Linked DNA regions of Homo sapiens: all the other regions are reported to be linked to region 1. The links are microRNA targets in miRTarBase. Many come from high-throughput screens and were not tested one by one. Region 1 holds a microRNA gene; each other region holds the end of a gene's coding sequence.

Region 1 (7,423 bases):
ACGCCATCTCCCACACTGAAATGAGCAGTGCTGATTTAAGAGCACAGGCTCTGGAATCACAGAGATCTGGGTTTGTGCTCCTGCTTGGAAATGTCAGTTAGACGATCTTGGATTATTTAATTCTTTTGTTTCTTCATGGCAAAATGGGAATGATGATAATAACACTGACCTCAAAGGGCTGTTTTGAAAGTCAGACTAAATGAGCTAATTCATGCAAAATACTTACCAAGTATCTAACACAAAATAAGAGCTCAATGATGATGATAAGCTGCTATTATCATCATCATCACCACCGCCACCGCCACCTGATTTGTAATTCAAACTCTCATGTTGACTAGCCGTGGCATTGCAGGCAAGTTACTTGACTTTCCTGTGCATCTGTTTCCTCGTGCATAAGCTGGGGAAATACTACCCACCCTTCAGAGCTATTGGGAGAGGAGGGTGGTGATCACGTGCTTGGCCCTTGGTCGCTGTAAATGATTACTTTTAATGGGGGTTCAGTCTGCTTTGCATAAATTTACTGCCCTTTTTGGTTAAGGCACATCTGTTTTTCTGTCTTTGTTTGCTCTTCTATGAAATGAGGACAACAATCCTTAATTATTTTGCTTTTCATGGCTCTCTAGCCTATTAAACAATTCCTGTTTATGCATTTAGAAGGAAAAAAAAAACCACATGGGTAATCCATAATGGAAGATACATCAAAATCATATTTATGGTCTCAGAAATGTTCTTTGAAGCAGGGTTATTTTCTTCCATCTTATTTTGGTCATCATTGGAAGTAGTTTTTATTCCTCATGCACATGGCAGATGAAAATGGAGAGAAACTATGAAAAGTAGAGGCTGCAGCCTAGAAGGAAGATTTGCCACAGACACCTACACAAAGGATAGCTCACGTGGAATGTAAGAATGGAGTGTACACAGTATGTCTTGTTCTTGTCTACCGTCCCTCCTAGGAGCAAGGATTTTCCAGCCTTGCAGAGAAGCCTAGTAGGTAATCAATCATGAGAATATAACATGCGAAGTGCCATCAGGCTCTGAAGGGGTACAGAGAAGAAAGCCTTTGCCCAGGGATCTAAGCCTTGATGCAGAAGGCAGAGGAAGGCTTCCTAGACAAGTTTACACCTGAGCCAGGGGCTGCAGGTTGGAGGTCCCTAGCTTACAGTCCCTAGGGGCTGGAGGTCCCTAGCTGACGAGGAGGAGGAGAGGGGAGATGTGGGCAGAGGAAATAGCACAGACACAGGCTAAGAAATGCCAAGATACCTGAGTGTTCTCAGCAGCAAGCAGCTGGGTGAGCACAGAACACAGGCCCCAGGAAGCACAGCCAGAAGATGGTGACACAGGTAGGCATGGGGTCATGAAGGGTCTGGTACCTGGTTGACACACTTATAAGAGTTCAGCTAAAAGTGAGGGACAAGGAGCAAGGTCATGTGGTTAAACAATTTTTATTTTTATTTTTTAAAGAGATGGGATCTTGGTCTGTCGTCCAGGCTGGAGTGCAGTGATGCAATCATGGCTCATTGCAGCCTCAACCTCTTGGGCTCAAGCAACCTCCTGCCCCAGCCTCCTGAGTAGCTGGGATTACAGGCACCAGCCACCGTGCCCAGCTCACGTATGTATTTTACAAAGATTAACTGGTGGCTATAACAAAGCTAGACTAATGGCGAGGGGTGGGCCCAGAAAGCTGTCTAGGAAGAGCAGAGAAAGGGATGGATCCTAAAGAGAGAATTGAGAGAGAACAGCAACAAGTTGTGCTGAGTATGGATGTGGGTAAGGGAGAGGGAAGAGGTCACAGACCTCTGGTGTTCGCAGCTTTCACCATGGGGCAGAGCAGGGAGAGCTGGCTTTGGGGAGAAGGCAATGTGGATGGCTTTGGTATATGCCTAGTGTTCCATTATTGGAATGCTAAGCATGTGGGAGTTGTCTCCTACTGCTCAAGGTCATTGCCAAGGTCTGATGGCAAAAATTCAAAAAATTGCAACCTCAAGCATAAATGGATTAAATTGAGACAAGTTTAGAAGAGCAGGCTGAACTATTATACTTAGGAGCTACTAAAAATATAAAAAGCAAGATGTCTCAAAAAATATCCCAGGCCAGACCTCTGGTTTGAGGGAAATCAACACATAGGGATGTATTTGGAACCAGGGGAGTAAATAAGATTACTTAGGGAAAACAGCGAATAGGTAAGAAAGCAAAAGACAAGAGTTTTGGGAAAATAATAACCATGGGATAGAAAAAGATGTGGTGGAATGATCCTGATTCTCGTTGGATTTGTGTGGTAGACAGAATGTTTTGGCTACAAATTGCATGTGTTAGCCCCGAGGAGAAAAGGCCTTTTCCAGACAAGTGACAGGCAGGAGGGAAAAGGAGGGAGGCAGTGTGAGAGGGCGGGAAAGCTTAAGCAGGGTAGATAGAATATTAACTCTTGATTGTGAGGCCAGTGGCTTTTCCAGGCCAGAAAGAAAACAGAAGGACAAGGCCCAAATTCCACCAGGTGCCCCTGCAGTTCTCCAGGACGCCACATGGGGACAGCAGGTGGCCGGTCTGTGCAGTACCTGTGTTGGGAGCTGCACACAGGGGCCCCTGGAGGAGGAGCGGCCGAGATGGCTCATTCTTGAGCCTTTTATTTTATTTTATTATTTTTATATTTTATTATTATACTTTAAGTTCTAGCATACATGTGCTTATACCCAAAGGATTATAAATCATGCTGCTATAAAGAGCCTTTTATTTTTGCCTCTTAGTGGACCTAAAAACTCAGTATTGTTTTTGGTCTAATGACTTCACTTCTAGTGAGGTTGTGTTAGTCCGTTTTGCGCTGCTATAAAGACATACCCGAGACTGGGTAATTTATATAGTAAAGAGGTTTATTTGGCTTACAGTTTTGCAGCCGTACAAGCATGGCACTGGTACCTGCTCGGCTCCTGATGAGGCCTCAGGATGTTTTATACATGGTGGAAGGCGGAGAGGGAGCAGACATGTCACATGGCGAGAGAGGGAGCAAGAAAGAAAGAGCAAGAGAGAGGAAGGAGGTGCCAGCTTTTTTAAACAACCGGCTCCCTCTAACTGAGCAGGAACTCGTTAAGTGAGGACATCACCAAGCCATTCACAAGGGATCCGCCCCATCACTCAACCACCCCCACCAGGCCCCACCCCCAATACTGGGGATCACACTTCAACATGAGATTGGAGGGGACAAACATCCAAACCATATCAAAGGTATACTCTAGGATCCTAGTTCAAGTAGCACCTGCTTTTGTTGCTTTGCCTTCTAAACTGAACTGACACATATTAGCACAGTTCTGTCTCAGCCATAGAAACCCAGTTTCTCTGGACCATTTTTCCTTATGTAAGAAAATGACCTGTTTAACCATGGAGGGAACTCCTCAGCCAGCTAAGAGAGGAGAGTTCAGAGATAGCTGGTGCAGCTTCTCATCAACAACAGAATTGACTCCCTCGCTGCTCCTTTCCCATCATCTAAGCCAGTCATCGATTTTCCCCAGGAGTGTTTCTAGGTATCCGTCACCAAAACAAAACCCCCACCAAGTCTATGGAATTTCTATAAAGTATAACCATTCATGATATGCTAATAGTGAACCATTTGTTAGTATTATACCACATGCAATTCAGGTCAGTGAAATTCAACTTAGAAACTGGAAGAAGAAAAATCACCTTTGCATTATTGCTTTGCATTTGTTTTCTTAGTTCTTGTCCATGGCCCCAACGGTCACCAATACATTTCCTCTCAGCAGTCAGCATCATGGTGCTCTTCCCCAATCATTATAACCGATTTCAGATGGTGCTAGAAAATTATATTGACTCTGAACACCAAAAGAAATCAGTCATCCTCTAAGGGGTCACAGAAGGTCGTGAGGGTTGGGAGGGCCCAAATCTTACTAAATCCAGCATACATTGGGCTCTTTAACCCAGGCACAATGGAATGAGTCTGTACTATCTATTAAGTGCTATAGGTTTATTCCACAAAGAAGTATAAAATTCCAACAATGCGATATCCTGTACAATTACATTCATCCCTTGGTATCCTTGAGGGATTGGTTCCAGAAAGCCCCTTGGATACCAAAATCCACAGATGCTCAAGTCTCTGATAGAAAATGGTGTAGTATTTGCATACAACCTACACACATCCTCCCGTATACTTTAAATCGTCTCTAGATTACTTAGAATACTTAATGCAATGCAAATGTATGCAAATAATTGTTATGCAGTATTGTTAGAGAATAATGACAAGAAGAAAGTCTGTTCATGTTCAATACAGACACAACTTATTTTTGGAAAACTTTCGATCACAGTTGGATCCGCCAGTGCAGAGACCTGACTGCCATTTGTGATATATGCCACCACTGTTGGCAGGGGTGAGGAAGGGGTCAGCTACATGTGAGGCAGGTTCTCACAGCCATCCTGCTGTTGCTTTCAAATACTTCAGAGCTGTCCCATTCACTTCTTTTGCTGTTGGTAGTGCAGCGCAGCTGGTCTCCCCCAAGAACACTGATTTCAAATGGTGCTAGACAATCACTATTTAAATCTAAACCACCATATGAAACCAGCTTCCTGAAGAAGCTTTATGATCTATTTTTTTCTTCATAATGCTCTCTTACAATAAACCCAAGACAACCTAGAAAGGAAAAGTTGAAACCTAGCTGTGAGTTACTCAGTGGTCTAAACAGAGCTTTGGCAAATTTCATATATTCATAAACTGATGTCACTGAATTTGTTATTGATGGGAGAGCATGCCTGGGACTCCCTTATTCTTAAGTTAAGTTGCCCAGACAAAGGTTCAGCTTCATCATTTAGAGGCAAGGGCACATGTCAGCCCCGTCACTCTTGGGTGGGAAGACAAGGAAAATCCTTTGCTTGGGTAAAGGCAGGAGAAGTCAGAGGCATCCTGTGATCAAGTACCCAGGCAGGCGGAGGACGACTAGCAGTGGTGCTGGAGAACCGTCCGTCGGACATGCAAATAGGACAAAGCAAGCAAGTGCTCCATAGAAGTTGAAGAAAAACGCTTTCCTAAACCTATTATTTTCACTTGGAGATAACTTGGATCCAAAGGATTACTGAGATTTTGGGGTCTAGGGAAGAAAATAGACTAGCTCAGAGGCCAAGTAAGTCACATAATGGCACTAATGAGATGCTAATGTCGCTTCCGGAATGAATTCCTTAGACTGCATCTATGAGTTAGGGGTTTTTGTGAGCTTTACTTAAGACTCTCCTTCCCTCTACTCCAAAGGTAAGGCTTTGTACTCTGAGTTCTCCTTGGCAAATTATTTTTTGCAGCAGTTCTTTTTCGCCGTCATGGTATAGTTCTTGGTATCATCTTATTAGGTGGCCTGTTGTCGTCCCTTTTTGTGTTCTAGGCATCCAAAAAGATACTTCATGTACCCAGGCCACCTAATTAAAGGGGTGTGCACTGTTTTTATAAACTGTTATAAAAAATTTTATACATTAAATTGGAATGACAATACAATGAATTCCTAAATCCATACTATCTAAATTCAATAACTATTCCTTTTTATCATGTTTTGCTTTAATTATATGTAATATAGATACATATTTTTTGCTGCATTGTTTGAAAGTAAATTGATAACCACCCATACATACACTGCTCCTAACTACTTTGAGGTCGTTCTATAAAATGAAGACACTCTTCTACATAACCACAAAATCTTACCATACCTAAGAAAACAAACAATTCCTTGGTACCCACAAATATCCAGCCTACATCCAACTTCTCCCACTTTCTCCAAACAAAAGGTTTTTTATAGGTTTTTCAAACCCAGATCGCATCAAGGTTGATTCACTAAGACTCTTTGGTCTCTTTTAGCCTCAAAACACTACCCAACCTTTTCTTTGGCTTGTTTTATCATGACATACCACCTTGTGAAAACCAGGCTCCAATCCTGGCTGTACCATTCACTTAGTCTGTTCCCTTGGCTTGTATTTAAGAACTGAACTTTAGTTTCTCCGTCTGACTTTCCTCATATATCATCCTCATTTTACAATCTCACTATGTGTATTAGAAGAACATCCAATTACCACGTGCCTGTGGTTGATGATTCCAAGTGGGTTCAGTGCTAATCAGTCAGGAGGTGCACTGCAGGCTGTTTACCTTGGGTCTGATTAGCATAACATTCTTGTTCCTCATGGGCTTGGCCAGTTATCTTTTCATAAGGAGATCCCAGCACAAACTCATCCTTTATCATCATGGAGAAGCATCCACAGCACATACCTATTGCTGCTAGGCTGGTTTTTAAAAAAAATCTCTGTGAATAAGGGAATAGAACACCAGGGCTATGGAGATGCGTGGCAATCATTTCATCAAAGATGTAAACAGCTTGTTGACTGCAGTGAAAGGCACATACTTTGTGAAGTGACAGGCAGTGACACATTTCAAGTGGATAGTAAATTTAAGCACCAAAACTGGGAAAAGTGCCAGGACAGAAGAATCACTGCAACTCTCAAATAATGGTTTCACTAATTCTGTGATTCCTTTAGGGACCCCCTGCATCCTTCTGTATATGCTACTCTAATTCGCAGTATCAGTGACTGAAGTACAAAAGAAGCAGCCAGATTATTCTCATCAGTTACAAAACTCTAAAGTCTGCTTATTTTTGATAAATAACTAGTCACAGTGTTTGCCTACTGCCTAGAAGTTTTTTCAAATGATTGACACTTCAGTTATGGGGAAAATTTTTCCTGAAGAATGAATTTCTTTTACTTATGTCTGATAAGATCATATATATCTCATACACCAAATACATCACACACACTATATATTCAACCATGCCCTTAGCAGGGCCAAACAAATATGCTAAGTTTTTTACATTGTCTTTATGTATGCTTCTCAAAAATTCAGCAGAAGGCTAAGCGTGGTGGCTCATACCTGTAATCCCAGCATTTTGGGAGGCTGAGGCAGGCAGATCACTTGAGGTCAGAAGTTTGAGACCAACCTGGCCAACATGGTGAAACCCCATATCTACTAAAAAAATACAAAAAAAAAAAACCAAACTAGCCAGGCGTGGTGGCACATGCCTGTAGTGAGGCTGAGGCCGAGGCAGGAGAGTTGCTTGAGCCCAGTAGGCGGAGGTTGCACTGAGCTGAGATCGTGCCATTGCACTCCAGCCTGGGTGACAGAGCAAGCCTCTGTTTCAAAAAAATTAGCCGGGTATGGGATGCCTGCAATCCCAGCTACTCAGGAGGCTGAGGCAGGAGAATCACTTGAACCTGGGAGGCAGAGGTTGCAGTGAGCCAAGATCATGCCACTGCACTCCAGCCTGGGCAATACAGCCAGACTCCATCTCAAAAAAAAAAAAAAAAAAAAAAAAAAAAGGCCAGGCACGGTGGCTCACGCCTGTAATCCCAGCACTTTGGGAGGCCAAGGCAGGTGTATCACGAGGTCAGGAGTTCAAGA
Region 2 (7,140 bases), not on the chromosome of region 1:
CATCTTTTGGTCATCCAGATTCTACTAATAGTTTGCTTCCTTCCTTATAGTATTTTTAAACCCATTTTTTATGTTCTACACCAAAGAGATAACTGTCAGCAATTGAATTATTTAATAGAAACAAAAAACATTCTCACCTGTCTTGCTTCGGCCAGAAGTAGCACAGACCCCATTATATTTCTTTTATTAGATAAAACATTCAAGAAGACACTATATAATCTCTTTACAAAGTCTAATTCAGCACATATGCAATCATATGGTTGACTTTTGAATGGAAAACCCCACAATATTAAGAAAAGCATTCATGTGACTTTATTAGGGACACTAAACTACATCATTAACATGTCACAGCTTGGTTGACAATAATCACCAAGAAAATCTCTTTGGTTTTTAAAAATAAATAAACATATATTCATAAAACTCAAAAAACAGTTATACTGAACGTTGAGATGGCAGAAACTTTCAGAAGCAAAAATTAAGCATATTGAAAGGATCCCACTCATATGAAACTAACAGGCTGTTTTCTGTTTAAACTCAACTGTCAGTGCTTCTGTTCAGAACACGTTATTTCATGACTAGGATAAAGAAGCAAATGGTTTATGACTTGTCTGCTTTCTGGTAGTTAGAATACAAGGGTCAATCTATGGCTAGTGTTTATTGGTAATTTTAAAATCTTTAAAAATAAGTAGCTGGGCACAGTGGCTTACGCCTGTAATCCCAGCACTTTGGGAGGCTGAGGTGGGTGGATCATTTTGAGGTCAGGAGTTCAAGACCAGCCTGGGCAACATGGTGAAACCCTGTCTCTACTAAAAATACAAAAATCAGCTGGACATGGTGGTGGGCGCCTGTAATCCCAGCTACTCGGGAGGCTGAGGCAGGAGAATCGCTTGAGCCCGGGACGGAGGTTGCAGTGAGCGGAGATCGTGCCACTGCACTACAGCCTGGGAGGCAGAGCGAGACTCTGTCTCATAAAACAAAACAAAAAAATAAAAATAAGTAAAAAAATAAATAAGAAATATCCTCATTCACATCTTACCTAAATGCATGAATAATACAGTGAAAAAAATCCAAGGTTTTATAAACATATTATTTATTTGAAATTATCTGGCTCATGTTATTGGGGAGAAGCAATATTCATTGACTATATTTTTAAAGCAGATGATACTTATAAAAATGCTTAAATATTTGGATTAGGCTTTGTCAAAGTAAAAAGCTATGTCATTATATGCCCATCTTCATCACATTGTGCATATTTTCTTCTGTATTCAATATAAATAATGTTATTAGTGACAAACAGTACCTGGCAGTTAATTTTTTGTGAAATAAATGAATGAATAATAAGGGAGTGTAATAGTATTGCAGTTAAGAGATTGATCTCTGAAGTTATACTTCTTGGGTTCAATCTGGCTCTACTTTTTATTTAGCTGGACAATCTTAGGCAAATTAACTTATCCTCTGTACGTGTTAATTTCTTCATTTGTAGAGCAGAAAATACTATCTTATTTACAGATCCTATTATTAAATCAGCTGTTACTATTATGAGTAGCTAACGCTTAGTAAGCACTTGCTGTTTGCCAAGCATTCTACTTATATGCTTTACATATATTATTTTAATCACCACAACTCTAAAGTATACTAATTTACTGATGAAAATATTGAAGTGGGCTGGGTGCGGTGGCTCATGCCTGTAATCCCAGCACTCTGGGAGGCCGAGGTGGGCAGATCACCTGAGGTCAGGAGTTCGAGACTAGCCTGGCCAACATGGCGAAACCCACCTCTACTAAAAATACAAAAATTAGCTGGGCGTGGTGGTGTGTGCCTGTAGTCCCAGCTACTTGGGAGGCTGAGGCAGAAGAATCACTTGAACTCGGGAGGCTGAGGCAGGAGAATCACTTGAACTCAGGAGGCGGAGGTTGCAGTGAGCCAAGATCATGCCATTGCACTCCAGCCTGGGCGACAGAGTGAGACTCTGTCTCAAAAAAAAAAAAAAAAAAAAAAAAAAAAAAAAATATATATATATATATATATATATATGTATGTATGTATGTATATGTGCATAGTTAAGTAAATCACCCCAATTTTTTCTAATATTTAAGTGAACATTTAAAGATAAGCATTTCTTAATGTTAATTTCTTTTCTTTCATGTAATCTTGTCAGTAGACAAATGATGGTGACTATATTCTGTAATAAGTACATATATTATGATTAAAAAAAAAAGCGTGTACTATCTGCCCAAAGAGATCATAAGCACTTTGGAGCTATAAACTTCTTGTCTATTTCTACTTCCATGGTACTGATATTCTCTTCTCAGATAACCAAACAAAAACAGCTGAATAAAATCAACCATTAATAGTAACTTGCCACTTTGTTAGAGACTGCTTAAAGACTCCTTTTTTTCTTCACATAGTAATTACTTCAGTGTCCAAAATGAAGTTTAAAGTAAGTTCACGTAATCCTTCCAAGGCTTTAATCTCATAGCATGTTTTGTTCCTGAGTTAGAGCTGTAAAAGCAATTCACAGTACATTGCCCAAGAGCCATGTGTTCAAAAATCACCAGAGGTTATTCCGGGGGCAAAACAAACAAACAAAAAACCACACACACACACACACAAAAACCCAGTAAATTTTTTTTTCCTTTTCTACTTTGATGCTTAACTGAGACATGAAAATGTTCTGAGAAAAGTCTGAACACATTCTGGCTTCAAATATTTACAGTGAGTATCAATTCGTTTATAGTAGTAATTGGATTTTTGGCTCATTAATGTGCAGAGACAAAGGAGATTTGGGAACTTGAGGTGACCGCCCTGAATGCTAGCTGTAAATGGAAGTGTCCAATCTAGTGATTTCTAGACATGTAAATCATAGAGTAACTCAAAGTCCATCAGGGAGAGTTCCTGAGATGCACAGATTTCTCCACAGTTACAAAAGTAGTTTTATTCTTTTTATGAGATGGGGTCTCACTCTGTCACCCAAGCTGGAGTGCAGTGGCGTGATCTGGCTCACTGCAACCTCCACCCCCCCGGGGTCAAGTGATTCTCCTACCTCAGCCTTCTGAATAGCTGGGACCACAGGTGCCCACCATCATGCCCGGCTAATTTTTGTTATTTTTTTGTAGAGACGGGGTTTCGCCATGTTACCCAGGTTGGTCTCGAATTCCTGAGCTCAAATAATCTGCCCATCTTGGCCTCCCAAAGTGTTGGGATTACAGGGGCAAGCCATTGTGCCCAGACTAAGTAGTTTTATTCTTACATGAGTTTTGAGACCAAAACTCATCCGACTAAGACAGTAATGTTTGTTTAACATAAGCTATACTGCATGTAATAATCTCACTGGACTTAGGAGTTTTAAAAAAATACAACTTCCAGTCAGGTACAGTGGCTCATGCCTGTAATCCCAGCACTTCAGGGGGCTGAAGTGGGGGGATCACTTGAGCCCAGGAGTTTGAGACCAGCCTGATCAACATAGTGAGACCACGTCTCTACAAAAAATAGAAAAATTAGCTGGACATGGTGGCACATGTCTCTAGTCCTAGCTACTTGGGAGGCTGAGGTGGGAGGATCTGTTGAGCCCAGGAGGTTGAGGCTGAAGTGAGCCATGATTGCACCACTGCATTCCTGCCTGGGTGACAAAGCGAGACCCTGTCTCAAAAACAAAAACAAAAAACCCAAAAAATACAACTTCTAAAAATAATTATTTAAAAAACAATCACTTTACAGCTCTACCACTACTTTAAACAAAAAATATTTCTAGAGATTCTTACATTTAAAAAGGCAGGAAAAGAGATATGCAATTTCTCTTTAAGTTACTCATTCTGATAAACTCACATTTTAATTTCCTATACTGAAGAATGAACTATATACTCAGCTCATTATCATCATGGATATCTTTACACCATAGATGCTTTCCTAAACAGTTGATTTTAAATCATGTTGAATTTTTTTATGTAATTGAAGAACTGGCTATTTAATGGCATAGTAAATATTTTACTTAAAATATCACTTCTGTTTTTGGAGACAGGGTCTGTCTCTGTCGTCCAGGCTGGAGTACAGTGGTGATCATAGCTCACTGCAGCTTCAAACTCTTGGGCTCAGGTGATCTCACCACCTCAGCCTCCTGAGTAGCTAGGACTACAGGTGTGTGCCATCATGCCTGGCTAATTTTTGTATTTTTTTTTTTTTTTTTGTAGAGATGTGCTCTTGCTATGTTGCCCAGGCTGGTCTTGAACTCCTGGGCTCAAGCGATCCTCCCGCTTCAGCCTCCCAAAGTTTTGAGATTATAGGTGCAAGCCACTGTGCCTGGTTTTAAAATCACCTTCAAAACTTACCCTATTTTAAAGTTTGGATTTCAAAAAAACAGTGTTTTTAATGTGTCTGTGTGAGTTACAGTCAAACACAAATTTGGGGTTTCAGGAATCTCAAATTTTGACTCAAAGGCCAACAAGATTTTATCTTAAACTGTAGAAAACAGGCATACACATACTCTCATTAAGGCAGCTTTCAAACTATAATCAGGAACACAAACCATTAAGACTAGACAAAATTTAGGATAAACAACTTAACAGGGAAGTAAGTTTCTACTCCCTGGATAGAAGAGGAAGATGGCCCATTCTGTTCAATTTGCTGAGGACTCTAGGCCTATCACTGGCCTTGTGCTCTGTCAGGGTGGGAGTTACGGGCAAATCTGGGAAGACAAGGTGAAAGGAAATCCTGCCGGCAAACCACAAAGGGAGAACAGAGGGAACACTGGTAATCTGCTAAGCATAAGCATTTCAATCCAGCAGCCTAATGCCACAAACCTTCCTCTGATGGCCCCTACACTCAAATGGAATTGATAACACTGGGAAGAGTTACTACAGCTATAGTTGCACCTGACAGAAAAACCTCTGGCTATATCACACACGCTACTCCTGGCTCAGAAGGAGAGGAACAGTAAAAGGATTCACTTCTAATAAGCAAAAGAATTTTTTTTTTTTTTGAGATGGAGTCTCACTCTGTTGCCCACGCTGGAGTGCAGTGATACAATCACAGCTCATTACAGCTTCAACCTCCTGGGCTCAAGCAATCCTCCTGCCTCAGCCTCTCCAGTAGCTAGGACCACAGGTGTGTGCCAACACACCTGGCTAATTTTTATTTTTTGATAGAGATAGGGTCTTACTGGCCAGGCGTGGTGGCTCACAAGGTCAGGAGTTCGAGATCAGCCTGGCCAACATGGTGAAACCCTGTCTCTACTAAAAAATATATATATAAAAAAAATTAGCTGAGCGTAGTGGCAGGCGCCTGTAATCTCAGCTACTCAGGAGGCTGAGGCAGGAGAATTGCTTGAACGTGGGAGGTGGAGGTTGCAGTGAGCTGAGACCGTGCCACTGCACTCCAACCTGGGCAACAGAGCGAGATTCCATCTCAAAAAAAAAAAAAAAAAAGGAGAGAGAGAGATAGGGTCTTACTATGTTGCTCAGGCTGAGAAACTTAAAACCAAGGAGTTGATTTCTTTTTTTGTAGGAGTAGGCTGGGCAAAGAGAAGTATAGCAGTTAGAAACACAAGATAAATTTATAATAATCATGTAATCCATGAGATCTTCCTAAGTACAATTATTAAAATGCCACATTAAAACTGAACGTGCACATTATGTTAAAAAATCTTATAAAAGAAATGCAGAAGATTAACCAATGTTAATATAATAATAAAGAATAGTGGCTGGGCACGGTGGCTCACGCCTGTAATCCCAGCACTTTGGGAGGCTGAGGCGGGCAGATCATGAGGTCAGGAGATCGAAACCATCCTGGCTAACACAGTGAAACCCCGTCTCTACTAAAAATACAAAAAAATTAGCCGGGCATGGTGGCGGGCACCTGTAGTCCCAGCTACTCGGGAGGCTGAGGCAGGAGAATGGCGTGGACCTGGGAGGTTGAGCTTGCAGTGAGCTGAGATGGCGCCACTGCACTCCAGCCTGGGCGACAGAGTGAGACTCTGTCTCAAAAAAAATAAATAAATAAATAAAATAAATAAAGAATAAATACGTTTTTGTTTTATGAGAATTTAAATTTCTCTATACAACATGATAAACTTTGGGGAGTTGTGGTATCAGGTGTAAAAGAAACATCAGTAACGGAGAACAAGAGACTACGGAATGCTTTAAGAAATCCACAATGTCATGCCAACCAGTGTTATATGATAAACACAAATTTATCATAAAGTCTGGCCTTAAATAGGTAAAAGGAGAACTGAGACCAGAAGGGAACCAAAAAGCAGCCAGGCGTGTTCACACAGGTTAGCAAGGAAAACCATTTAAAGGAAGCACACTCAGAAACACTCTGGCCTCTGGCTGAGTGTGTGTGTGACTGGGGTTTGCACAGTTCTAAGAACTAAAAACAGCACCCAGACCTTCTGGGCACAGGCACCATTCAGAATAGAAAGTGATTGTGGGTAGCAATTTGCATTCTCAGAGAAACTGTTTCACTTCAACTTCAGTTATTAGAATTATACATGAGTAGGTCAGAGTGACAGAAAGGTCTAAAACTAAGTCTCCCCACAACCTCATGATCTAAGGCTGCCTGCAAGAGTTAGGAGAGAGGAGAAAATTCCACAAACTCTCAGTGCTTAGTAGAGCCCATGAAAGAAGGCAAAGAGCCAGGAGTTGCATTTACCTTGACAACTGTGCTATTTCTTTCTAAAGTACTTTTAATTTAGGGGTGAGAGGAAGAAAAAAAAATACCAGAAACATAATGAAAGTTTTCACATTCTTTCACAAGAAAAAGTAGAATTAAAGGGAAGAAGATGACAGAAAAAAATAGAAATTTATATGCATGCCTTAATTAATACCTGTAGGGAGGCAAATCTTGAGAATTATAACAGTCTATTATGACAGTGGGCCTTAACCAGGGACAATTTTTGTGCCCCAGGGGACATTTAGCAATGTTTGGAGACATTTTTGGTTGTCACAACTAGGGGGAGATGCTACTGGCATCTAGTGGGTGAAGGATGCTTAGCAGCATCCTACAATTCCCAGGACAGCCTCCCACAGCAAAGAATATAGCCTGATATGTCACTAAGTGTGGCTGTGGGGAGGCCCAGCACTATGTTCACACATCTCTCGAATTTCAAAGGATTATATGATTGCTTTTTATGCAGTTTTATGTGAA
Region 3 (7,423 bases), not on the chromosome of region 1:
TGGAATGCAGTGGCATGATCAAAGCTCACTGCTGCTTCAACCTCCCAGGCTCAAGCAATTCTCCCACTTTAGACTCCTAAGTAGCTGGTACTATAGGTGTCTGGCTAATTTTTAAATTTTTTGTAAAGATGGGGTCTTGCTATGTTGTCCATGGTAGTCTCAAACTCCTGGTCTCAAGTAATCCTCCCTGCTTGGTCTCCCAAAGTACTATGAGTATAGCTCTTTTTTTTTTTTTTTTTTTGAGATAAGAGTTTCACTCTCATTGCCCAGGCTAGAGTACAGCAGCATGATCTCATCTTACTGCAACCTCCACCTCCTAGGCTCAAGCGGTTCTGCTGCCTCAGTCTTCCGAGTAGATGGGACTACAGGCATGCGCCACCGCACCCAGCTAATTTTTGTACTTTTTGTAGATATGGGGTTTCACCATGTTACGCAGGTTGGTCTCAAACTCCTGAGCTCAAGTGATCCGTCGGCCTCGGCTTTCCAAAGTGCTAGGATTACAGGCATAAGCCACAGTACTTGGCCAAAATTCTTTATGTGTTAATGAAGGCTTTCCAAAATACTTAGTTATGGCTTAAAATAGTTTACTTAGCCATGTCTTTTTTCTAGGTTGACCTTTCTGAATGATCAGACTGCAAGATAGAGTTTAAAATTAATAAAATATGTTTTATTATCAAATTTCTAATTCATTCATTTTTTATAGGGAAGAACTTATAGAACTGAATTATAGTGGAGAAAAATCAATACAGGTTGAGTATCCCTTATCCAACATGCTGGGACCATTAAGTGTTTCAGATTTCAAATTATTTTGGATTTTGGAATACTGGGCATTACACCAGTTCAGCATCCCTAATCTGAAAATCTGAAATTCTAAATGCTCCAATAAGCATTTCCTTTGAACACTATGTTAGTACTCAAAAAGTTTTCAATTAGGGATGTTCAATCTGTAGATCTAAGAATGACCAAATTAAAATATAAGAATAAGGCTGAGTGTGGTGGCTCAAGCCTGTAATCCCAGCACTTTGGGAGGCCGAGGCGAGTGGATCACCTGAGGTCACTTTGAGAACAGCCCGGCCAACATGGTGAAACCCCGTCTCTATTAAAAATACAAAAAGTTATCCGGGCGTGGTGGCGGACGCCTGTAATCCCAGCTACTTGGGAGGCTGAGGCAGGAGAATCACTTGAATCTGGGAGGTGGAAGCTGCAGTGAGCTGAGATCGCACCACTGCACTCCAGCCTGGATGACAGAGTGAGACTTGGTCTCAAAAAAGAATATAAAAATCTTTGCCTCTGAATACTATTTTCTCAATTTAAAAATAATTAGTGAAGCGTTTCTTTGATTTGTTGGTAAGCAAATCTTAGGGTAAGAAATATCCAGAAACATTAATGATCAGTGAGAGCTGATGGAGAGGATAATTTTACAGATACTTAGACCCCAAGAACTCATAGCCCTTAACTGAGAGCAGCAACCCGAGTTGTCTCTAGTGCATCCATATGTTTGCTTCTCTTGGGTGACATGGGTCAATACGTTCAAAGTGCAGTAACACTGTAGAATGAGTAAATTTGGGCAGTACTAAACTTGCAAAGAATGGAAGTGACTAAGGACTCCAGAGAAAGCATGATCCTTGCATCTGCTGGGAGGTTAACAGTGGTTCCTAGTTTTTTAGGGAAAAAGTGAGGCAGCCCTGGGAACACAGACCCTAAAATGTAAGATTTTATAAAACTTCATAAATGTTGTCATCTTATTTTAATGACAGCAAGAGTTAAATATAACGTACAATATGATATGAGTAACATTTTATAAAAAAAAAAAAATTTTTTTTTTTTTGAGACGGAGTTTCACTCTTGTTGCCCATGCTGGAGTGCAATGGCGCGACCTCAGCTAACTGCAACCTCCGCCTCCCGAGTTCTAGTGATTCTCCTGCCTCAGCCTCCCGAGTAGCTGAGATCACAGGTGTGTGCCACCACGCCTGGCTAATTTTGTATTTTTAGTAGAGACAGGGTTTCTCCATGTTGGTCAGGCTGGTCTCGAACTCCTGACCTCAGGTGATCCGCCCACCTCGGCCTCCCAAAGTGCTAGGATTACAGGCGTGAGCCACCGCACCCGGCCCAAAACATTTTTTAAAATAATTTTTATTATGTCATGGAATCCTCTTTTTAAACAAAAACACAACAGATACTCGGTCAACTGGAAAACAATTTATAGAATTCTATTTACATGTAACTTCTCCAGAGCGAATATCTTATACAAAGCAAGGATGTGGGTTATTTCAATCAAATAACATGAAGTCGCAATTAAATGACCAAGCTAACTCTCCTTGAAGTCTCTAACCATCTGCTAATTTATTTAATACAAAATGCTTATTTGGTCTTTTAAATGACAGGCAACTTTGAAAGTGTATTTCACCTATTCTTGAGAATTCTACTAGGCTTTAGCTACAAGAATATAGCACCAAAATCCATTTTAATAGTATTAATATTTGCCACTAATATTGAGTTTTTAATACATACAATTTCATGTAGGAATACTGGAAAAATTCAGACAAATATGAGTATAACATTTTATAAAATGGGTAATAAAAAGCTTTTTTAAAAATAGCAATTTAAAAACACAAAGAATATTCTTTTAAATAACCACATAAGCTGGTTAGACTACAAAACCTAAGGTCTCAGAAAACCTTTGGCTTAAAAATTAAGACTATTGCAAAACCCTAATCTATTTATTATAAAATTTTAGAGCAATTTAGAAATACTGAAAGTTACTAAGAGGTGCCAGATTTTTAAAGATTGAAGTAAACCCGATTTTTCTCCCTTATAATTTTGGAAAGATTTTGTAAATTCAATTGGATGAATGTTCATATTTAATGTCACTTATGAAGAAATCATTTCTTTCAGTTATACAATGAACTACTATAATGCAGAATTGAAATGGTACAAGCAAAATACTCAACTTCATACTTTGATAAATAATATATGAAAAAGATATTACCCATAAGTATGATGCAAAATTTTAGGTAGAGTCCCACTTACCTATATTAAAAACAAAAACAAAAACAAAACTTAAGGGATGAAGGGGGAACTATTTATCAACTAATTGACTTACAGGACAATGCAAACGAGGATGCCTGACTGAAAGTCTAGGTGACCAATTCTTTCTGGTAGCCTGAGATGCCTGCTCCATGCCTGACTCCCAATCTTGCTGGAACTGTGCAGTCTCTATAAAATCAAGTACAATCAAAAAGCTGCATATGCGGGGAAAAAAAAAGAGAGGAGAAGAGAGGGAGGGAGAGAAATAGGTAAATAGAGAAGGTAGGAAGGGAGAGGGATGGAGGCAAGGGAGGCAAGAAAGCAAGCAAGTGAGCCTTGCTAACTTAGAAAAATATCAGTGGCCTTTAACTGACAGGGAATAGTGCAAAGTTAACCTTTGGCCCCTATAAAACATTGGATACTGATTTAAAAAACAAAACAAAACAAAACCAAAAAACCAAAACAAACCAAAACAAAAAAAAAAAAAGAGAAACACCACAGTTCTTATGAGGGAAGCTTAGCCTGTTAAGAAGGCTTATTACCATAGCACACAAGAAGCTGCCTTGCTTATTAGATAAACTGTCCAGCCCAAGCCAAAGTAGCAGACATATTGCAATTCAATTTCAAAAAGTTTGTTTGTTTGTTTGTTTTTTGAGACAGAGTCTTGCTTTGTCACCCAGACTGCAGTGCAGTGGTACGATCTCAGCTCACTGCAATCTCCATCTCCCAGGTTCAAGCAATTCTCCTGCCTCAGCCTCCTGAGTAGCTGGGATTACAGGTGTGCACCACCACACCCGGCTACTTTTTTGATTTTTAGTAGAGACAGGGTTTCACCATGTTGGCCAGGCTGGTCTTGAACTCCTGACCTTAAGTGATCCACCCACTTTGGCTTCCCAAAAGTGCTGGGATTACAGGCGTGAGCCACTGCGCCCGGCCCAAAAAGTTTAAAAAAAATTAATAATGATTAGCCACCTTGCCTTCCTCAGAAATGAGACTTTTCCCTCCAGAAAAATCTCTGTAAATGATACAGCCAGGCCTGAATTTTGAGGCCAGGGCTACCTCAGATTCCATTCCTCCCTGTTTTCTGCAGCTGTAAATGCCTCTGCCATCTCCTGCTCCAGGGGCTGCCCTGAGACAGAACATGAATACAAGTCCAGACCCTCTACCCAGCATCAGCTCTGCAGTCTCAAATCAGTCTCCCGACCACAGTACTCTATTCAATTGTTCACCTTAATACTTTGAGCAAGAAAGACTGCTTTTATTATAGAAATGACTTTTATAAATATTGATAAAAGTATAAGATGAAAGGAAGCATATACTAAAAATTAGATTTATGAAGAATAGCAGTTTTCCTTCTTGGTTGGAAGATTTGTAGCAGTGATTAAATACTGTTTATGCAATTCTGCACTGCACATAGGAACTTCTTCGGATATGGTGTAACACCAAGTAATTTACATACATGCCAGCTTCCAACTGACTTACAGTAACCATCAGTTTAAATGACTGTTTTGCAAGTGCCTCATACTGGAAATCTATCATATTTATTATCTTTGATTTCATTGTTTAACAGTTTTCTTTTTTCTCTTACCCTAAATAACTAAGAGTTGGCTGTACGCCTTTTTTGGGGGGTGGGGAGGGAGGTGGTGAAAACAGCTTTTATTTTTTACTATTAGCTTCCACAAAAATTTAATAATGCCCACATTATTAAAATGAAACACTGGAATGAACTTCGACCTCACTATACTTTTAAATAAAGTATGTAACCTGGCAAAGCTGATGACTTTGTTTTAAGAAGACCTGGGTGTTGCTACGTCACATCAGACAAGTGCAGTAACCTGGAATGCACAGACGACCACCCTCTCTCCCTGGAGACCTGCTTTAGCTCCTACACAGATGACTAGATTTTGAGTTAACTGTTTTAACATTCTGGCATTTTGTTCTCTTGATAAAGAAAAATCACACCCTTGCCAAGTTCATGTATTTTAAAAAATGGAAAACTCTCCAGGTCACGGAGTGAAGAAAACACTTAAGTGTTTTATGTCTAAATGAAGCAATAACAATTCTGATACCAGCAACATCCCTTTTGATTTAAAAAAGATTGGTCCTCACAATGTTCAAATTATTCTACACAAATGACCTGTGAAATTTTTTACAGTTGTATTTTTTTGCCCAAGATTCATCATAAATCATTCAATTAAACTAAATTAAAATTGATTTTAGCAGAAAGTAGAAATGTTTCAGAATATAAAATATCACATTACTGATTTTACAATTTGATAACAACTAAAAAAAAAATGCATGTCACTAAAAAAATTTTTCCAGTCTTTTCCCTTCTACCCAGGAAAATTTTACATGATGTCACCAACATGAGCCCTTGGTGATCTTCTGAAGTCTTCCAAAGATTACACCTTTGCAGACTTACTGGTGATCTCCTTCAACTCGTCTCTTACGCACTATGAGAAAAATAAAAGAAACTATGTTAGAAATCCCTATTAGTTTTTACAATGGTAACTTGCTTATAACAAGCAAGTTTCTGCATAATCCAGTTATAAGTTTTACAAAATTGAAATGTCCATTTCCAGTTCACATGACCACTAATTAAAAAAAAAAAAAAAACAACCTACTTCCCATCATTCACCACTGTCATTTACTTGTTGAGAACCAAGGGGCTTCAACAAAAGAATTACATGCCCTAAGCTCAATGACTCATAGCTGTGCTTACACAGCAGCAGCACTAGAAATCTAAAACAGAATGGTCAGCAATCATCTACAAGTCATTTGTTTTTGTTTATTTTTAACTTTGTAATTTATTAATAAAACAGACATTAGGTCTCACTATCTTGCCTAGGCTGGTCTTGGACTCCTGAGCTCAAGTGATCTGCCCGCCTCAGCATCCCAAAGTGCTGGGATTACAGGTGTGAGCCACTGCGTCCAGCCCAAGTCATTTGTTTACTGAAAAAGTACATACTCAGGTTTTAAAAAACAGCTAATAAATTAGTGTGTTAAATTTTGAAGTGACATTCAGGCAGCTGGGGTTAGAACATATTAAAAGTAACTATTTGCATGCTCTCCTGATTAGACACTACAATGTATTTCCTTAGGCTGTAAAAGAATATACCAAAAACATTTTTGTCATTTTTATAGGTAAGTGATTTGCTACTGCTTTCTGAATTTTCCTTCTTTTGTCTCCTGTAATATAAACCAGTTCAGGGTCTGATAAAACAACAAATGCAAAGTAATGAAAATCTCAGACCCTGGTAATATGGTGTGGTCACTTCCGGCTACCATAAACTTTGGCTGCCTAAGTGGCCAGTCAACTAGCTCAGCTTTTACAGCAAAGAACGGTACATGTATGTATCTGAGACTACCAGCCTCTTCCTGGACTGGTGATGTCAAACTACTCAGGGGTGTTCTCTAGTAGCAGAACAAGGTCTTCAACTTCAGATCTTGCTACCTGCGCTCTCACCTATCAGCCACTAGAGAGCATTCACTGAGGGCCACCAATTCAGGGCTATCAGCATTGTGGCCGGCTCCTAGAGAGGACAAAAACCACAGGTTCCAGAGTTGATGACAAATAGAGTGAATCATGGCTCTGTCACTTCTGTAGTGTGTACTTTGGCCTAAATTGGCTGTTTGACAGAGGAACTAGAAGCCAACAGGTACACCTGGTGTCCTGGCCAGGCCATAGACACTCTGCTCTTGTGCTCTTCTGACTGCTGACTTCTGTTTGTCGGCCTTTAATAGATAAGACCATACGTTCAGATGACGTATATAAAATCTTGTTCAGCCATAGGCTGGGTGCTTGCTTGAAAATAAAACCAGAAGGACTAAAGTATCAGGTTCCCACGAACATTTTTATAACTATCTAATTAAGTTCGCCTGACTCTTAAGTTTATTTTATTTATTTTTTGCCAGAACTCAATAAAAATAGGGATTGCTTCATGAATGTCTGTGTCATCCTTGCAAGGGGCCATGCTCATCTTCTCTGTATCATTCCAATTTTAGTGTATGTGCTGTCAAAGCAAGCAACCGACTCTAATTTTAATCCATGCTAACAAAGACAAGTTTCATGTGTTCACTGAAGTATTAAGAAAAAAAATTAAATGGAGACTTGAGCCCTCAAATATCAAATCATGTATATAGATCTCTGAAAAATATAGAAATGTCTGAAAGGCAAACTTCAGATAATTCTTTTTTTTTTTTTTTTTGAGACGGAGTTTCGCTCTTGTTGCCCAGGCTGGAGTGCAATGGCGCGATCTCGGCTCACCGCAACCTCTACCACCCAGGTTCAAGCAATTCTCCTGCCTCAGCCTCCCGAGTAGCTGGGATTACAGGCATGCAACACCACACCTGGCTAATTTTGTACTTTTTAAAGTAGAGACGGGGTTTCTCCATG
Region 4 (6,979 bases), not on the chromosome of region 1:
CCCAGCCCAGTTTTTTTTTCTGTTTTTTTTTTTTTTTTTTTTTTTTTTTTTGAGACGGAGTCTCACTTTATCGCCCAGGCTGGAGTGCAGTGGTGCAGTCTTGGCTCACTGCAACCTCTGCCTCCCGGGTTCAAGCGATTTTCCTGCCTCAGCCTCCCAAGTAGCTGGGACTACAGGCATGTGCCATCACGCCCAGCTAAGTTTTTGTATTTTTAGTAGAGATGGGGTTTCACCATGTTGGCCAGGATGGTCTCGATCTATTGACCTCGTGATCCATCCGCCTTGGCCTCCCAAAGTGCTGGGATTACAGGCGTGAGCCACTGCGCCCGGCCCCCAATTTTGTTTTTAATGGGAGAAGGATCAAATGAATCAATCTTGTGTCTGTTTCCCTTAGGAAACTTGACAAGTTTGGAGGACAGGACGTCTACCTTCTTCCTGTCTGCAAAGTCTCTGGCCTTCCTCCACATCTACTGACATTTTTTAAATTGTATCATACCTAACATTCTTACCAAATTATTTCAGTACCAAATCTGGGTTTGTAATATCTGTATCTATATCTAGTGTATGTACCTATACAGTTAGCATCTGCGATTATTCAATTGGTCTGATTCCCCCATCAGGCTCTGGGCTGTGACTGAGAGTGGCCTTGCCTTAGTATACGGGTGTCACTCAGATGGACCAAGCAGCAGCCAAGTCTCCAGGAGCTCCAGTGACTCAGAGGCCTGGAGTCTCTTCTGTAGCTACAGGGTTCCCACTTTCATGAGCAGAGATTATGCAAAGGTGACCTCTACTGACCAAAGGAAGAAACGGCCGTTATACATTCCCTGTTCCTTCTAGTTCTGCAAAATGACTGACATAGTCACTGCTGTTGGCCAGGCACTTGACATGTATTATTATGCCATCATCCTTGCATTTGTAATGTCTACATCTACAAAGTGGGCATCATCACCCCGCTTTATAGATGAGGAAATGGAAGTTCAGGGAAGTGAAGTAACTCCCTGAGTTCTCACAGTATTAAGAGGCATCGCTAGGATTCAAGCCAGGTCTGTCTGATGCCAACGACTCCGCGCTGTCCACGAGGCACCTGCCACTCAAAAGTGTGGCTCAGGGATTACCAGAGCGTTGGCATCTTTGGGATTGTTAGCGATGCAGACCTCAGGCCCCACTCCAGACCTAGTGAATCAGAATTTATAGCCCAAGGAGAGCCACCAGGGGATTTGCGATAATTGTGTGCACTTGTATGCATGTTAAAGTCTTAGAAACAGGCTGGCCGCGGTGGCTCACGCCTGTAATCCCAGCACTTTGGGAGCCCAAGGTGGGCGGATCACGAGGTCAAGAGATCGAAATCATTCTGGCCAACATGGTGAAACCCTGTCTCTACTAAAAATATAAAAATCAGCTGGGCGTGGTGGCGTGTGCCTGTAGTCCCAGCTACTCAGGAGGCTGAGGCAGGAGAATTGCTTGAACCCGGAGACGGAGGTTGCAGTGAGCCAAGATCGCGCCACTGCACTCCAGCCTGGGCAACAGAGTGAGACTCCAGCTGAAAAAAAAAAAAACGTCTTAGAAACACCCTGACTCCCAGGAGGTGGCAGGGAAACCCCAACATGGGGCCTCTTGGGAAGAAGTTGAATTTGTACATTTCTTTTCTTTTTTGTTTTTTGAGACAGGATCTTGCAGTGTCATCCAGGCTGGAGTGCAGTGGCACAATCACAGCTCACTGTAACCTTAAAACTCCTAGGTTCAAGTGATTCTCCTGCCTCAGCCTCCTGAGTAGCTAGGACTACAGGTAAGCACTATATATATATGTTTTTGTTTTTTTTGAGGCTGAGTCTTGCTGTTGCTGAAGCTGGAGTGCAGTAGCACAATCTTGGCTCACTGCAACCTCTCTGCCTCCTCGGTTCAAGTGATTCTCCTGCCTTAGTCTCCTGAGTAGCTGCGATTACAGGCGCCCACCACCACGCCTAATTTTTGTATTTTTAGTAGAGACAGGGTTTCACCATGTTGGCCAGGCTGGTCTTGAACTTCTAACCTCAAGTGATCTGCCCGCCTCAGCCTCCCAAAGTGCTGGGATTATAGGTGTGAGCCACTGTGCCCAGCTTTTTTCATATTTTTTTTTTCAGAGATGGGTCTTACTATGTTGGCTGGCCTTGAACTCCTGGCCTTATGCAATCCACCTCCCAAAGCGCTGCAATTACAGACCTGAGCCACTGCACCTGGCCTGCTCACTTGTCTATTTATGCAAGTTAAAAGCACTGTCTGCCTCCAGTCTTACAACCTGTGGGACCATGGGCAAAATATTTAACTTCTCTTAGCTTTTGCTTCTTCATAGAAATGTAAAGACCACGATTGTGCAAGTAAAGTGTCAGCACAATATAAGAACTCAACAAACGCTGCTATTCATTCATTCATTCTTTCAGTAACTACTGAGCGCTTGTGCCAGGCACCGGTGGAGGCGCCTGGTGGGTAAAGAAGACATAAGCCTGCTCTCATAGAGCTTACAATCTAATGGGAGAGATGGACATTAACCAAGTGCTTACAAGTATTTGGGACATTAGGATGGGGATGTCTTTTTTCAAAAATCTGTAGGCTGGGCACAGTGGCTCACACGTGTAATCCCAGCATTTTGGGAGGCCGAGGCAGGTGGATCACCTGAAGTCAGGAGTTTGAGACCAGCCTGACCAACATGGTGAAACCCCATCTCTACTAAAAATACAAAAATTAGCCGGGCATGGTGGTGGGTGCCTGTAATCCCAGCTATTTGGGAGGCTGAGGTAGGAGAATCGCTTGAACCCAGGAGGTGGAGGTTGCAGTGAGCTGAGATTGCGCCATTGCACTCCAGCCTGGGCAATAAGACCACTCCAGCATGGGTGACAAGAGGGAAACTCTGTCTCAAAAAAAAAAAAAATTGTATACATTTTAGGGGTACACATACCATTTTGTTACGTGGCTATATTGCATATGGTGAAGTCTGGGATTTTAGTGTATCCATCACTGAAATAATGTACATTGTATCCATTAAGTAATTTCTCATTATCCACCCGTCACACCAGGATGAGGATGTCTTGAGTGAAGTGTATGAATGGATGAACTTGGCTGTTTGCACTGGAGTACGCCTGTGGCGTAGACGCATCCTTTCCTTCCTTCTGTTGAGAGACGGTTAAACTCAACCTCGTTATTCGCTCCCTAGTCAGGCCCAAAGCCCAAAGCCACCCTACCCTTCGAGCCTTTCTGAAGTATTTCTTCCTTGCAGGGTCAGTCCCCCACTTTTACTAGGAGTTGGAGCCTGACCTTCACTTGAGTGTGGCTGGAGCGGAGAGGGGAAGTGTGGTGAGAGATGAGTTGGTTAGACTTGACCCTAAAGGCAAGAGGGAGTCATTTAAGAACCTCCCAACACACAGTCAATGTCTGGCTACCTTGGCCACTTTTCAGTTCCTGAAGTCATGTTCCTCCCAGCTCAAGGCCTTCGCACATGCAGTTTCCATTGCTTGGCAAAGTCTCCCCACCTCTCTTTACTAATTCCTACTCATCAGTCACAGGCCAGCTCAAACATCACTTCCTCCAGGAAGTCTTCCTTGACTCCCCAGACAACTTTCCAGCCCCCAGACTAACACACTGTATTTTCCTTCCTTGGCACTTAACCACAATTTGGAAGTGTATATTTGTGTCATTGCTTGCTTAGCATCAGTCTTCCCACAACTAGGCTGAGAGCAGTACTGGAGTCTGTTTTGCTGGTTTTTTTTTTTTTTTTTTTTTTTTTTAAGATAGAGTTTCACTCTTGTTGCCCAGGCTGGAGTGCAATGGCGTGATCTCGGCTCACTGTAACCTCTGCCTCCTGGGTTCAAGCAATTATCCTGTCTTAGTCTCCCAAGTAGCTAGGATTACAGGCATGCGCCGCCATGCCCAGCTAATTTTTGTATTTTTAGTAGAGACAGGGTTTCAGCATGTTGGCCAGACTTGTCTCGCACTTCTGACCTCAGGTGATCTGCCCACCCTGTTCTCCCAAAGTGCTGGGATTACAGACGTGAGCCACTACACCTGGCCTTTGCTGGTTTTCTTGCCAGCACTGAGCGTGGTGACTGGTGGCTCCATAACCAAGACAGCTGGGACCTGCTCAACGCTCGCCTCTGAAAAGATGGGGGTGGATACTCAGGAGTTTAAAGCTCTTGCCAAGATCTGAAGTCAGGGGGACAGTCTGAGACCACAAAGGCACAGGAAAGACAGTGAGGGCTTAAGTGAAGGCAGAGGTCGCAGGATTGGAGACTGCGATACATTCCTAAGTCACTGGAGAAGGATAGGTAGAATGTGGAAGAAAGCAGGGGTGGCAAGAGCCACTTGCAGGTCCCTGCTTGGTAGAGGGAGCATGGCGGTGCCATTCCGGAGATAGGGGTCAGAGACAGTGACATGCCATCTACACCTCCTACCCCAGCCCTTCTTCCTCCTGGCAGTGGCCTGGACTCTGTCCCCAGGATCAGACACAGGGGACACGGCTCAGCAGCACAAATCCCTTTTATTAACCATCTTCCCTTTCTCGAGTATACACAAGTAGAAAAGAAACAGTGAAGTACCCCGATAGGGAGGGTGGGGAGAGGATGGGAGGGGGCTCCTGAGGTTAGGACAAGAGGCCAGATTCCAGCTCCTTCTCCTGACTGGTCTGTCTCTGTGCAATGACTCCACTTACATCCCTTGACCCCCGAAACACGGCACTGGGGGACTGCAGCCCTGCTGACCAGGCTGTCCTCCTAGCCCTGTCAGGGACTGGTGCTGGCAGAGCTTGGTGCTGTGCCACAGACTGACAGAAAACAGCACAGTGGGTCTGGCCCCGGGGGCAGAGAAGATCAGGCACCAAGAGGGGATGTGAGAAAAGGCAGTTTATCCATCTGGGGACTGGACAGAGGCCCAGCCAGCCTCCAACCAGCTTCTGCTTCTTAGATCGGACTGCCCTGAGTGGCGGGCGGCTCGGCAGGGGGTCCCTCTCGTACCCTTTACAGAGGTTTTGGGGAAGAGGGGACAAGGAAATGCTAGGGGCTCCAGGTGGAGGAGGAAGTCTGATTGGTGCCTGGGATTGGCCAAAGTGAGAGGGGGCAGCTGAGGGGCTGAGGTGGTCAAAACGGGAATATAGTGGGGAGTAGGGTGGGAGGTGGGGAGATAGCCTATCTCTTCGCCCTCTCTGGGGTAACAATTCCAGTGTGACATCAATGTGGCTGGCCACTGAGGCCAGGCCTGATGGACGTGCGTTGCTGAGGAGGCTGGTAAGAGAGCCCCCACTGTCCCCAATTATGTGCGTGGGAGAGACTGAGCTACACAGTGAAGTGAGATGGGAGGTGAAGAGGTAACGGGGTGAGGGGGAAGGAAGGAGCAGACAAAATCCAGACTGGAAGGGAAACTTCCAGGCCAGTGTGGCAGGCTCAAATGCTGCCCATCAGTGACAACCCAGCTGCCTTTTTGTTTGTTTCTGTTTTTTTGAGATGAAGTTTCACTCTTGTTGCCCAAGCTGGAGTGCAATGGCACGATCTCAGCTCATTGCAGTCTCTGCCTCCTGGGTTTAAGCGGCTCTGCTGCCTCAGCCTCCCAAGTAGCTGGGATTACAGGTGCCCGCCACCATGCCCGGTTAATTTTTTGTATTTTTAGTAGAGATGGGGTTTTGCCGTGTTGGCCAGGCTGGTCTCGAACTCCTGACCTCAAGTCATCTGCCCGCCTTGGCCTCCCAAAGTGCTGGGATTACAGGCGTGAGCCACTGCGCCCAGCCCTGCCTTTTTTTTTTTTTTTTTTTTTTGTCTCTGGGTAGTCACGCTAGGGCTGGCAGGGGAGGAGGCAGAGGAAAGGCAGGAAGAAGAGAAAACATCACTGAAAAAGAAGGTGTCGGGGAGGTACACCCTGATTCTGACCAGCCCAGCCCACACAGAGGGTCTGAAAGGTTCTCAGCCTTCTCCATCACCCACCCTGCGGCCTCTGAAAAGAGGGGCCCATCTCAGACACAAAAGCAGATACTCCCAACCTTATGGGGAAAGCTAACGGAGGAATACTCACAGCACCGTGGCACGGGACGGCCCTTGGCTTCAGAGCCGGGCTGGCACCGTTTGTAAACATTAGACCTGGTGATGTCTGGGGATGGAGGAGGAGAGGGATGCCCAGCCTGGACCATCAGGTTTGATGAAAGAGACAGGGTGGGGCCCCTCAAGGCCTGGGAAATGTCTATTAGCTATGGGAAAGAGGCTGACAGGTTCATGGTGGGGGTTGCCCAGGAAGGTGTGGACAAGGTCTGAATCTACCTGACTATGCATTTGCATGACTTCAGTGCTACCGTTGGAAGTGGCCAGGCTCCTGAGGAAGCTACCACTGGCCTGGGGTAATGAGCACAACCCCTACTCAGGACAGGGTGCTCTGTGGAGGATGGTGGCCTTCTGTCCATAGTCATTCTCCAGAGGGAAGTCAGACTGGATTCTTTCTTATGAGATCTACCGACTCTCTTCACCCGTGGATTCCAGGCATGGAGAAGTTGAGAACTGGGAGAGGAGGAGGGGTCCTCTATGATGTGAGACTTCCTGCCGCCATCCACGGCACTGCCAGGACTGGGGAGCAGGAAGGGGACTGGATTTGAGCTGTCCAGAGGTGTGGGGCCTGAGTTTGCCCCAGTCCCTGGAAGAGGATGTCCGGATGTCATCCCACCAGTTGGAATGATCGTGGACTAAGAATGGCCCCATAGCTCTAAGAGATGGGTTCCTGCGACCAATGGCAAAGGCCTTGTGTTCCCTGGGAGGCAGTGGTTATGCCAAGAGATCCACAAAGATGGCGTTGGCTGTGGTCTGGCCGAAGATGAAGGCTCCCAGGGTGACCAAGAGGACTCCGTAGCTGACCAGCACCCACCAGCTGTAGAACAGAGGGTGAGAGAGGTCTGATCAGTCATCCCATCCCATGACTGCAGACTTCAATATATATAACTGTTAATTACTGTAATTATCGCACTTCTCCTGTTGGTAGA

The links. The annotated mature microRNA hsa-miR-29a-5p reads ACUGAUUUCUUUUGGUGUUCAG and lies in region 1 at 3,819-3,840, opposite strand. An mRNA with a match to its seed (bases 2 to 7 or 8) in the 3' UTR can be bound and repressed. Matches are read on the target gene's strand: a 7mer-m8 pairs with bases 2 to 8, a 7mer-A1 pairs with bases 2 to 7 and ends in A, and an 8mer does both.
Region 2: the mRNA of GPR82 is a reported target of hsa-miR-29a-5p. Seed matches in the 3' UTR shown: 7mer-m8 at 819-825 and 7mer-m8 at 1,521-1,527.
Region 3: the mRNA of TMOD3 is a reported target of hsa-miR-29a-5p. Seed matches in the 3' UTR shown: 7mer-m8 at 5,288-5,294 and 7mer-m8 at 3,449-3,455.
Region 4: miRTarBase lists SLC38A7 as a target of hsa-miR-29a-5p. Seed matches in the 3' UTR shown: 7mer-A1 at 5,045-5,051.

Annotation. Positions count from the first base shown.
Region 1 is chr7:130,872,968-130,880,390 of GRCh38, forward strand. It overlaps MIR29A (microRNA 29a), which reads right to left and starts at 3,843; the gene lies at 3,780-3,843. MIR29B1 (microRNA 29b-1) reads right to left here and starts at 4,572; the gene lies at 4,492-4,572. It also overlaps a transcript of LINC-PINT not described here. RefSeq lists an enhancer at 2,303-2,597 and a silencer at 2,393-2,592.
Region 2 is chrX:41,727,774-41,734,913 of GRCh38, forward strand. It overlaps GPR82 (G protein-coupled receptor 82), which reads left to right. Exons shown (of 3, transcript NM_080817.5): 3 at 1-2,357. The coding sequence ends at 264. All of the region lies in intron 5 of CASK (calcium/calmodulin dependent serine protein kinase), which reads right to left. Among named protein-coding and RNA genes, the nearest start is that of GPR82, 7.2 kb to the left of the region's middle.
Region 3 is chr15:51,906,833-51,914,255 of GRCh38, reverse strand. It overlaps TMOD3 (tropomodulin 3), which reads right to left. Exons shown (of 10, transcript NM_014547.5): 10 at 1-5,480. The coding sequence ends at 5,446. It also overlaps the pseudogene RNU6-90P. Among named protein-coding and RNA genes, the nearest start is that of LEO1, 61 kb to the left of the region's middle. RefSeq lists an enhancer at 5,729-5,898.
Region 4 is chr16:58,660,621-58,667,599 of GRCh38, forward strand. It overlaps SLC38A7 (solute carrier family 38 member 7), which reads right to left. Exons shown (of 12, transcript NM_018231.3): 12 at 4,489-6,867. The coding sequence ends at 6,765. Among named protein-coding and RNA genes, the nearest start is that of SLC38A7, 21 kb to the right of the region's middle.